Linked DNA regions of Homo sapiens: region 1 is linked to region 2. The links come from fine-mapping of genetic effects on gene expression. A gene starts in region 2. The other region holds a variant in brackets. All regions are shown on one strand. Distances are from middle to middle. Region 1 overlaps DNAH9 (dynein axonemal heavy chain 9). Region 2 holds the start of DNAH9 (dynein axonemal heavy chain 9).

The links. PIP is the estimated chance that this variant, and not a neighbour inherited with it, causes the effect. A credible set is the group of variants that fine-mapping cannot tell apart.
Region 1: its variant is the best candidate, but not a certain one, in a credible set for the expression of DNAH9 in substantia nigra (GTEx, PIP 0.58).

What each region holds. Positions count from the first base shown.
Region 1 is chr17:11,852,035-11,857,034 of GRCh38, reverse strand. DNAH9 (dynein axonemal heavy chain 9) reads right to left here. Exons shown (of 69, transcript NM_001372.4): 50 at 2,607-3,032. Among named protein-coding and RNA genes, the nearest start is that of ZNF18, 140 kb to the left of the region's middle. The variant G/C (reference allele first, on the strand shown) is at 2,796.
Region 2 is chr17:11,595,343-11,600,841 of GRCh38, reverse strand. It overlaps DNAH9 (dynein axonemal heavy chain 9), which reads right to left and starts at 2,372. Exons shown (of 69, transcript NM_001372.4): 1 at 1,927-2,372. The coding sequence starts at 2,343.

The sequences.
Region 1 (5,000 bases), 260 kb before region 2:
CAGGAATATGGGCTGGACATGGTGGCTCATGCCTGTAGTCTGCTTGTAATCCTAGCTCTTTGGGAGGCCAAAGCAAAACGTTCACTTGAGGCCAAGAGTTCAAGACCAGCCTGGGCAACATAGCAAGACCCCTTCTCTAAAAATAAAAAATAAAAATAAATTCAGGAATGGGGATGTGACGGTGTCTTGCATGTGATGTTCTTTGAAGGGAGCAATTGTTATGGTGATTATCATCTATTTTAAGTAAACTAGTCCATGAACATGTGCATTATAAAACAAGCATATTGAGAGGAGGTGAGTTGCTTTGCCAAAGTTCTTTTTTTTTTTCTGAGACAGGGTCTCGCTGTGTTGCCCAGGCTGGAGTGCAGTGGCCTGATCTTGGCTTACTGCAAGCTCTGCCTCCCAGGTTCACTTCATTCTCCTGCCTCAGCCTCCTAAGTAGCTGGGACTACAGGTGGCCACCACCACGCCCGGCTAATTTTTTTTTTTTTGTATTTTTAGTAAAGACGGGGTTTCACCATGGTGGCCTGGATGGTCTCGATCTCCCGGCCTCATGATCCTCCTGCCTTGACCTCCCAAAGTGCTGGGATTACAGGCATGAGCCACTGCACCCGGCCCAAAGTATCTTTTTAAATAGAGAGATTGGTCTCAAGGATCTTTGATCTAGAGCCTTTTTCCATAGATTTTAATCTAACAATCAATAAACCCATGTCACGTGGCATACAGCATGTCTACAATCCTACCTTTCATAACTTGTAAAATCCTCCTTATCATCATGACAAATTTGTAGCAAGAATCTTATTTGCCTAGAATGCACATACAGAAATTAAAGATCCAGAAAATTTTTTGGATTGAACTTGATCACAGCCGTGATTGAGTCCATGCAAGAGGTTGGATGTGCATGTGGTAGATGGCACATGCTGTCAAATGGGGCAGTAGCAGTTGAGCAGTTATAGTCACGCTCACACAGTAGTGGTTGAGCAGTTATAGTCACACAGCAGGGGGGCAGCTCCTGCTGCTCCCTTCATCATGGGCTGGGCTCTAGTCTCATGCTTTATACACATCACATCCTTTAATTCTCATAATAGTCCCATGAAGCAGGTACTATTACTGTGTCTATTCTACTTCAGGAAGCTAAGGTTTGGGCATTTTGGAAACCTTTCTAAAGGTCACACGATCAGTAAATATTACAGCTTGGATTGGAACTAAGCTATGTGGAAGGATGGAGTCTTAGTTGCTATGCTATCTTCCAGGATTCTGATTTCTACCTGTTACTTTGTTAATATGCATTTTTATGGGCAAGGTGAAGTTCAAGCATATGAAAGTAAGTAATTCAAGATCTAAGCTGTTGGAACTTTAAAATATTTTGAGCCTTAAGGTAATGTGATTATAGGTCTCGAGTCACAGGACAGGCAGCTATAACCTAGGCAGTTGTAACCTTTATTTCTCTGATTATAGATTGGCCTTTTTCCTTACCTACATTGTCTTGTAAAACTTTGCAAATGACTAAAGGGCACCAGGGAAGACTCCTTCCAGCTTCATTGCTGATCTTTGTTATAGATTAACCTCTCTTTCACCTTTCTCACACAAAGACTCCACATTATCTAAGATGGAAGGTTAAATACACTCTTTGGAAAGGAAGTGAAACAAGCTGTACAGAAAACTGTAATTAATTAAATTGTTGTAACTCATAAACCAGCCTATTATAGAAAATTTCTTTGTTTTCTGCCTATATAAGTAACACCTTAACGTTTTACTTTGGAGCACTCACTCTATCTCTTTGGAGTTCATTGCCAGTTTTTCACTTAAATCAACTCTTGAAGCTGGATTCTGGGCTGGGCTCAGTGGCTCATACCTGTAATCCCAGCACTTTGGGAGGCTGAGGTGGGAGGATCACTTGAGCCCGGGAGTTCAAGACCAACCTGGGCAACATAGGGAGACCCTGCCTCTACAGATTAAAAAAAAAAATGAATTCTGATCCTTTCAATTATTTCAGGTTGACAAGGAAAATCTCCCAAATAGGTGTGAATCCAAGATCACCATCCCCATCTCCAAATCCTGGGTGAAGCAGACATAATAACAATATCTACATGAGTTTATAAAAGCTAATGACCCTCACAGTTTTATATTTATGGACTAGGGGCCACCCACTAAGTCACAGTGTATAACTTGCTTTAACGAACTTCCACAAAACAATGCAGATAGCTGACACATTTCCACACATCCATGCTACTGAAAGTGAGACAGGCAGATAGTTGGCTAGAACTGAAGGGAACAGGTAAAAAGGGTAAGGTGGCTAAAATCCACATTTCCAAGGAGAAAGAGAAAAAGTCTCAAAATTTTAACCTTTTGTTCAGAAAAGGAGAAAACCTTTTCGCACCACAGCTTGTAAACCAGTGGTCCAGTGGAATTGTCTTGTTTGGCCTATACAGTGTTTGAGAAAGAAATGTAAAAAGTTGCCTCTACTGAAAAATGAGATTTTGCATGAAAATGTGGTTTTCCTGCTTCTCTTTAAAAACCGTAACGTTAGGTGTTAGATGGTGTCTGAAGAGCGTTGTTTGTATTGGAGGCGGACTAGCAGGGTGAGGGGCTCTGGGGTCACTCACAGCGATCTTGGCTTTGATGGCAGCCAGCTTCTCCTGGGCAGCTGTGAGGTCCGCGGTGGCTTTGTTCAGTGCCTGGCGCTTGGGTTCCACATCACAGAACACCTCATAAAATCTCACAATATTGATGACCCAGGAGCAGAGGCCTGCAGCCGCATAGGATTTGGTGGCCACAAACTCAGGATTGAACTC[G/C]GGGTCTTGCAGATACGGCCTGATGGCTTTGAGGCAGTTCTCGTGAATGTTCTCTTTGTTGAAGTTTATTAGCGAGTCCAGGAAGCCATCCACTTTGGCCATGGTGACCTTAGCAGCCTTCCAGCTCCGGTCCTTGGGCACCCTACCCCTGGGAGCCATCAGTACCATCACCGCAGCGCTGACATTGCTGACGGCCAGAGGCGGAGAGCCAAATGACTTCAGCTCTGTCAGGTTGGTCTGGGAAAAGAGAAGGAGGTGGTTAGGGGAACATGAATGGGCTTTCTTTGTCCTCTGCCACTGATGGAGTTAGGTTGTGGAGCGATCGGTTTGAAAGGGCTGCTTTGAAGCCTGCAGCAGCCCTCTGAATTTTAAATATCATGACTCATCAAAAGGAAACCAAAGCTACTCCTCAGTGGCTTCAGACTTCTCTGAATGGTTAGCCAAGACTCAGCTATGTTCTTTCAGCACTTTAACTGACTCGCAGCCCATTAGAAACACACAATTATTTCACATTCAACTGAGAAATACAAGGATGCCGACATACTCTGAAATATGCAGCATGCTATGAATAAAAGATAAGGTTATTATAAATTAATTTCCATCTTGGATTGAAGAGAATAGCACTGTAACCCAAGTAATTTTTTTTTCCTTAATTAAACTGCTTTGTTCCATGAGCTTGTTCTAACTACACTTGACTGTCCTGATAGCAAAACAGCATTTTCTGCCAAGAAATAATTCAGACAGAAACAAGGCACAGCCTGTGAGTCAGCTGCTCTGCCTGGTCCTGGGTTTGTCCTTTGCTCAGAGTTTTGCTTGTTCCAGAAAGACACGGCTGAAAGAGTTGATCTTGGCAAATCACTTAAACCTTCCAGAACTTGCCACCTTCATCTGTAAATTGGGGGCAGGAGAACTCGCTACTCTGTACATAAAATGGTGTCATAAATGCGTATGAAGTTGATTTAAGGCCTGCTATGACATTCGGTGAGAAGCCTACAATCAGGTGTAGGGAATTCTAATTTTCTGTTGCTTGGGCATCCATTTTGAATATAGGTTTAACTTTATTCATACCAGAAGCAGGGCTCAGTTACCCTGGATACAGTTTCCAGTTCTATACCACACCCAAATGACTCAAGCCAGTAGCCAGAGAATTTGGATCTCTCCTAGGCAGGAGCTCCCTGCTTGCCTGCCACTTCCTTTAAAGGGACCATTCAGGCATTTGCTGAAAACCTAAAGTGACCCACATCCTACTTTCTTATATATACTTATATATTAACATAAGATATATCTTATATTAAATATGAGAAATATATTTCTTGTATATACTTTCTTTTATATATATATATACACATCCTACTTTCTTTTATATATACACACTTTCATATATATATATATATATATATATATATATATATATATATATATATACACACACACACACTTTCTTATATATATCTCTTATATATACTGCCGGTTGCCATGCACTTCTATGCACTTCTCTTTCTCTCTGCCTCACTCTTCATTCCTACCTGTCGTGACCCAGGGACAGAGCACTACCCTCCCAACTCATTGCATTCTCCCTGCTCAGGATCTGTAAGTAAAAATATTTGAATGTGTTTCCTGTTGTGGTGGTATACTGAATTTGCACCTTCCATCTGAAGAACCAGGGGCTGCTCCAGGCTGGGTTTTCTCCAGGTACTGGGCTGAGCTCCCAGCTCAGAGTGATGGTCAGGCAGGCATAAACTGGACATGGATTGGACAAGAGCCACAAGGGGATCCGCCAATATAAACAAATTTCCCATGTGAAGGACCCCCTGGTCATGGGTCAGACAGCTAAGCATTAGGCTGTCTGCCAGGTGAAAGAAATATCCGTGAAAGGTACATTGCAGACTCCCACGCCCAGCTCCCTACCACTTCCTATTAGGGCAGTGGAGCCCCAATGTAGCTGGAGGCTCTTAAAATGCTGTGAAACCATTTGCTTATGGCGCTAACTTTGTCAGTGGGGGGACAACTTGATTTCAAAAATTAGATTCTTATGCCAAATTAATTTGAGGTGCTCTTGATCCACAAACAAAGAGAATTATTTCTAGCTCCGAATGGAAGTACTGTGGCAGATGCTCCTTTCATTCTTGCAATGGATTTCACATTTGGTCCCAATACACCTGTGAGGGCAGGGAGGTAGGCAGCACAGGTGTGAGAGGGATACCA
Region 2 (5,499 bases):
GAATTTTACGTCATGTGTTTTTTTTGCCACAAGGAAAAAATTACCCTAAGGAATAACTCCGGTTGGACATGGTGGCTCACACCTGTAATCCCAGCACTTTGGGAGGCCAAGGCAGGAGGATCACTTGAGTCTAGGAGTTTGAAACCAGCCTGGTCAACATAGCAAGACCCTGCCTCAAAAAAAGGAATATTCCATATCAGTCATTCTTTTTAATAGTTGCAAAGTATTTCACTGTATAGATGGCCCATAATTCAGTCACCCAGTCCCCTGTTGATGAACATTGTTTGTCTCCAATCTCTTTCAATGCACCAATGAAAATTCTTAAACATTCGAGAATTTTCATTATTTTAAAATTATTTTTCTTGCTGGACTACTTTGCTTGGCCATGACACAACTCTGAGATGGGCCTTCTGTCTCCCACATACACTAGGTTAAATCCTGTCTCTGAACCTTTGATCAGTCTGCTCTCAGTATCTTGAAAGTTACCTTGCTCTCTACTTATACAAATTCTTCTAATTGTTCAGGAGACAATTCAACACTTATGTTAAGCATGCTTCTCAGATCACAGGCCTGTCTTTCTCCTCTGAAGCCAAAAGTACTTTCTATCGTCAACATTCATTAGAGAAGCTGATCTAAGTTCAGGCTTCAGCGGGATGGCTTTCAGACAATGCACAGTTGCAAGACCATTCTGTTTGTTAAAATATTGAAATACCTCCATATCTAAGAGATCTAGCTTCCTGGGCCCTCTGTGTCCTCCTCTATCTATCCAACCCTTTCCCTGGAATTTTCACCTCCCCACAGCCTCCTGATACACCATCTAAAGGGCTTACACTTGACATAGCAGGGAGACTCCAGGACTTGCATCCAGCAGTGGGGCCAACTTTTAGGTAAGCTTTACCCTCACCCCAGTCTTAAAAGTTTGAAACATTTTGAATATATGAATTATTACATACGTTTCAGCTCCTTGGAGTAAGCATTTCATGGGTGGGAATAGTTCTTTGGTATTCCCTATAGCACCTATCACCTGAACCATCATACAGCCAGTATTCTGCCCATCCTTATTTCACAACCTGCAGGGTCCAGGGCATCAAGCCTCCATAAGCACACAGCCTGACTTGCAGGGCAGTTTACTCCCATTCCAGAAAGGTCTAAGGGGCCCAGGAATCTCTCTGGAGCACTTCCCTGAAATCTCCTGCATTCTCGAAGCTTCTGCTGTGGTGCCACTAAAGCACTCATGACCCACATCTCCACCTTCCTCCCTGAGCTTCAGGCAGACTCCTCCAAAGGCCTGCTGGGCATTTCCAAATGGGAGCCCAACTTCTTATGCTGGCACAGGGCTGACCTTTGCTAAATGGTTGGTAATGAATGAATGAGATGAAAATCAAAAGCAAATCACTACCCACCTCCCCCTCCCATTTAACTGCTCTCCAGAAGTAGGCACTGTTTATAGCCATCCACCTCCTTCCACCCCACTGATCCATCAGAAATGCCGTCTTGTCCACTTCCCATCTTCTTCAGATCTTTCCAATTTACAGGAGGGATTACGAGAGGCTGATTTTGAAAGTAGTCAGAACCTAGGCACTCTTCAGATTATGGTCTTCCCCTGACTTTGGCTGGAACCCAGACCCGGACTGACCCAAGCCTCAGCTCCTTCCCATTCTCATTCTGGCCTGGCCTCCACCCAGATCCCTCCCTCCGGACCCACCCGACTCCGCCCCTAACCCCATCCCATTTTCTTCCTGACTTCAGGAACTTCCCTCCTGGTTGTGCTCCCTCCACAGCCTCGCCCCTCTGCCTATCACTCCGCCTCTTGGACCTCCCCTGCAGCTTCGCCCCGCCCCCTCTGGCCCCGCCTCCGTCCCTTAAGGCTCCTCCTCCCCTCCCCCACCCAGCTTTAGCCGCGCGGGGACACTAACCCACCCTCACCTCCGAGAACAGCGCGGCTAGGTGCTCCAGAGGTGCCGCGGGCAGGTCCCCGCAGACCACTGCGCCGCGGAAGCTGTCGGGCCCTGGAGGCTCGGGCCCGGTGCGAAGGAAAAAAAGCGCCTTAGCGCCAGCCAGGCCCGACTCAGGTCCCACCTCCAGCCCGGGGCGTATTGCCAGGCCCCTGGGCCCGGGCCGCACCACCAGCAGCGGCCGCGGCCCCTCGGCAGCATCGCGGCCCAGGAAGGCCTGGAGCAGCTGCTCCGCCTCAGCACTCCCCGCGCAACGCTCCCAGGCGCCCGCAGCCGGCCGCAGGCTCATGGCCACGTAGGTCCCCAGGAGTCGCAGTCGTCGGTCGGCGCCGGGTTCCCCATCCGCGTTCTCCGCCGCGAGCGCGGCCCGCTCCTCCGCGAGCCGCATCGCGCGCGGCCTCCAGCTGCATCGGTTTCCCTAGCGACGGGGACGCGGCCAGGACTCACTCCTCTGCTCCCTTCCTATTGGGCACGGACCCCTGGTCCCGCCCCTTCCAGGCTAATAAGGTAGGAGGTGTACGCGGGAAGGGGCGGGGTCGCGTCGCTGTTGCTAGGACACCAGCCGAGACTCGTACTCAGTGTCTGCCTGGTGTATTGGGAGTGCTGAAGTGTGACCGTGGAGCGCAATGGCTTATTGATGGGCTGCGTGGAGAGGAGATCAAGCATATAAATGCTGTTAAGGATCGTTTTGGCCAAGGTCGAATTAGAGTCTTTAGAGGTCTCCAGACACTGAAAATAGTGTGGTCCTCTTACCTCTATCCTAAATGTGCAATCCAGACTTAAACACAATGCCAAATCATAAAACAGATTTAAGGACATTCAGTGAATTTTATTTCTTTTCCATGATGGCAAATTAAACACTTCAGAACAGTGCTGTCCAGTAGAACTTTCTGCGATGATGGAAATGTTTTCCATCTGTTCTAGCCACGCATGGCCTATAAAGGAGGTGAAATATGCTCGTCCCACTGAGGAAATTTTTAATTTTACTTAATTTTCACTTAAAATTAAATAGTCACATGTGACTGTAGTTATATCGAACAGCTCAGCTTCAAAATTTTAATATCAAGTTTTTTTAAGTTTTCTTCCGTGCCTTTCTTTGCCCATGTTTTTTAAGGCATGTGCTTAATCTTCTAAAAATGTAACCAAACTGTAAGAGGCTTGTTTTTGAGACAGAGTCTTACTCTGTTGCCCAGACTGGAGTGCAGTGGCCGGATCATAGTTCACCGCAGCCTCAAATCCCTGGGCTCAACTGATCCTCTGGTCTCAGATTCCCTAGGAGCTGGGAATACAGGCGCCACCACATCCAGCTAATTTTAAAAATTTTTTGTAGAGATGAGGTCTCGCTGTGTTGTCCAAACTGGTCTTGAAGTCCTGGACTCAACTGATCCTTCTGCCTCAGCCTCCCAAAGTGCTGGGATTATAAGGATGAGCCACCATGCTAGAGTTTTTGACTTCCATGGGTATGACCACTAATCAGTTCTTACTAAATGTAGCAAAGTACTTGTAAATATGCAGGATGCTCAGAACCTTCCCATCCTGCCCTATACCTGGATATTGGCTTCAAAAAGGGATAATATAAAGTGCCTTGCCTGACCTCAGAAATTAGCATTTGTTACCTGCTTAGTCCTTCTCCATGGTCAGGATAAACAGCTTGGCCCTTTGCATGCATGTAAGGTGACAGTGCATGGGTGCTGAAAAAATGGACAAACAACTTGGGCAGCATGAGGTCTGCAGGACTGAATGAGCTCCCCTCTGCCCTGCCATCCTCCCTTTAGTCACCTCCCAGGGACTGCTGAGTTTCTGGGTAAAAGGAATGTTTATAATGGGTTTCAAAGGAATATTAACAGAATAAGCACTTATCAATGGTAGCTTGGCTAACAAGAGCCCCTCGGGAAAACACCAGTGGTTGGGAAGTAAAATGATTGATTTCATAATAACTGGAGCAAAGGAGTTGCTGTAATAAAAAATGTTCATGTTAGAAATGAATCTTTATGTTTGTAAAGGGTGTTTCATCATTGCTGGATTAAACAATAATCAACCAACTATGAGGAAAGGGAAAAAGTGGGAAACTAAAACAATCTTTAGGATGAATTTGGTAACTGACATTTCAAGAAGAAGCATCAGGGAAAAATAGTAATGTCAGGGGCTTCTTACACATATCGTTTTTTGTTTATCTTTGCACATAGGAAGGCATCGTTATTGTTTTAGTGCTTAGGGACTTCAAATGTGTCAACTATGCTCATGTTTCGTATACAGAGTGACTTCAGGACCATTAACTTTCAGTAAACCCTTGAAATAAAATTTCTGCCACCGCACTGTGGCTCTATTATGCCGTTAATCTCCTATGTCCCCTTGCCCCAACATACATAAAAATAGGAACAAAGGAGTCTGTGAATATGACTTAAAGATTTCTGTGTAAGGTGAAGGCTCCTGAATATTAGCAATCCCAGTTTTTAATTTTCTCTCCAAAAAGATACCTTATCTGCATTTTAGAAGGTGATTGGTGGGAGGCATTGATATGGGATTATTGAAAACAACTGACATTTTAAAATATTGTATAATTATGACAAAAATATCCCCAAAATATATTAGTTATCTATCACTGTATAACAAATTACCCCCAAACTTATCAGCTTAAAATAGCAATAGACATTTATCTCACACAGTTTATGGGGGGGTCAGGAATTTAGGAGCTGCTTAGCTCGTAGTTATTGCACAAGGTTTCTCATGATGTTGCAGGCAAGATGTCATCAGGGGCTACATCATCTGAAGGCTTGACTGGGGCTGGAGGAGACACTTCCAAGATGGCTTACTCACATGGCTAGTTGGTTAGTGCTGGCTCTTGGCAGTAGACTTCAACTTCTTAGCATGTGGAGCCCCCATTGGGTATCTGAGTGTCTTTGTAATGCTGTGACTGTCTTCCCCCGGAAGAAGTGATCTAAGAGAGAGCAAGGCAGAAGCCTACAGTGTCTCTTATGACTAGCCTTGGAAATCACACACTGTCATTTCTGCAATTATCTTATTAGTTACAGAAGTCTTCCCTATTCAATATGAGAGGGAATTACATGAGGATGTGAATACCAGGAGACAAGAATCACTGGGTACCATCTTGGAGGCAGGCTACCACAAAAAGTAAGGGAAAGAATGAATTTGCATAAGATGTTCAGCTAAAATAATTTCCATTTTTTAAATTGGAAACTTGAACTCAGTCCCATGAGCGTAATATTTGTAGTAATCATATTTTTTGTTTTAAATGACTATGCACAATTCCTGTTTGAGACTTTTGGTCATGATCTCTTTAAATTCTGGATAGTCGCTCGTGATGAGAAATTTGTTCCCACAAGCAAGTAATATGAAAGTTAAAGCCTTTCAAAACCATTCATAAATTAGCAGTTGACATTATATTTACAGAATCTAACAGCTCTTTCTTTTCTTCCTTGACAAATGTTACATTGAAAATCTTTTATGCTGCTAATAGATACTGAATCTAACCCAATCTTTTCATATCAAATATTTCAAAATAATGATGAAGTTCTAATTCAAA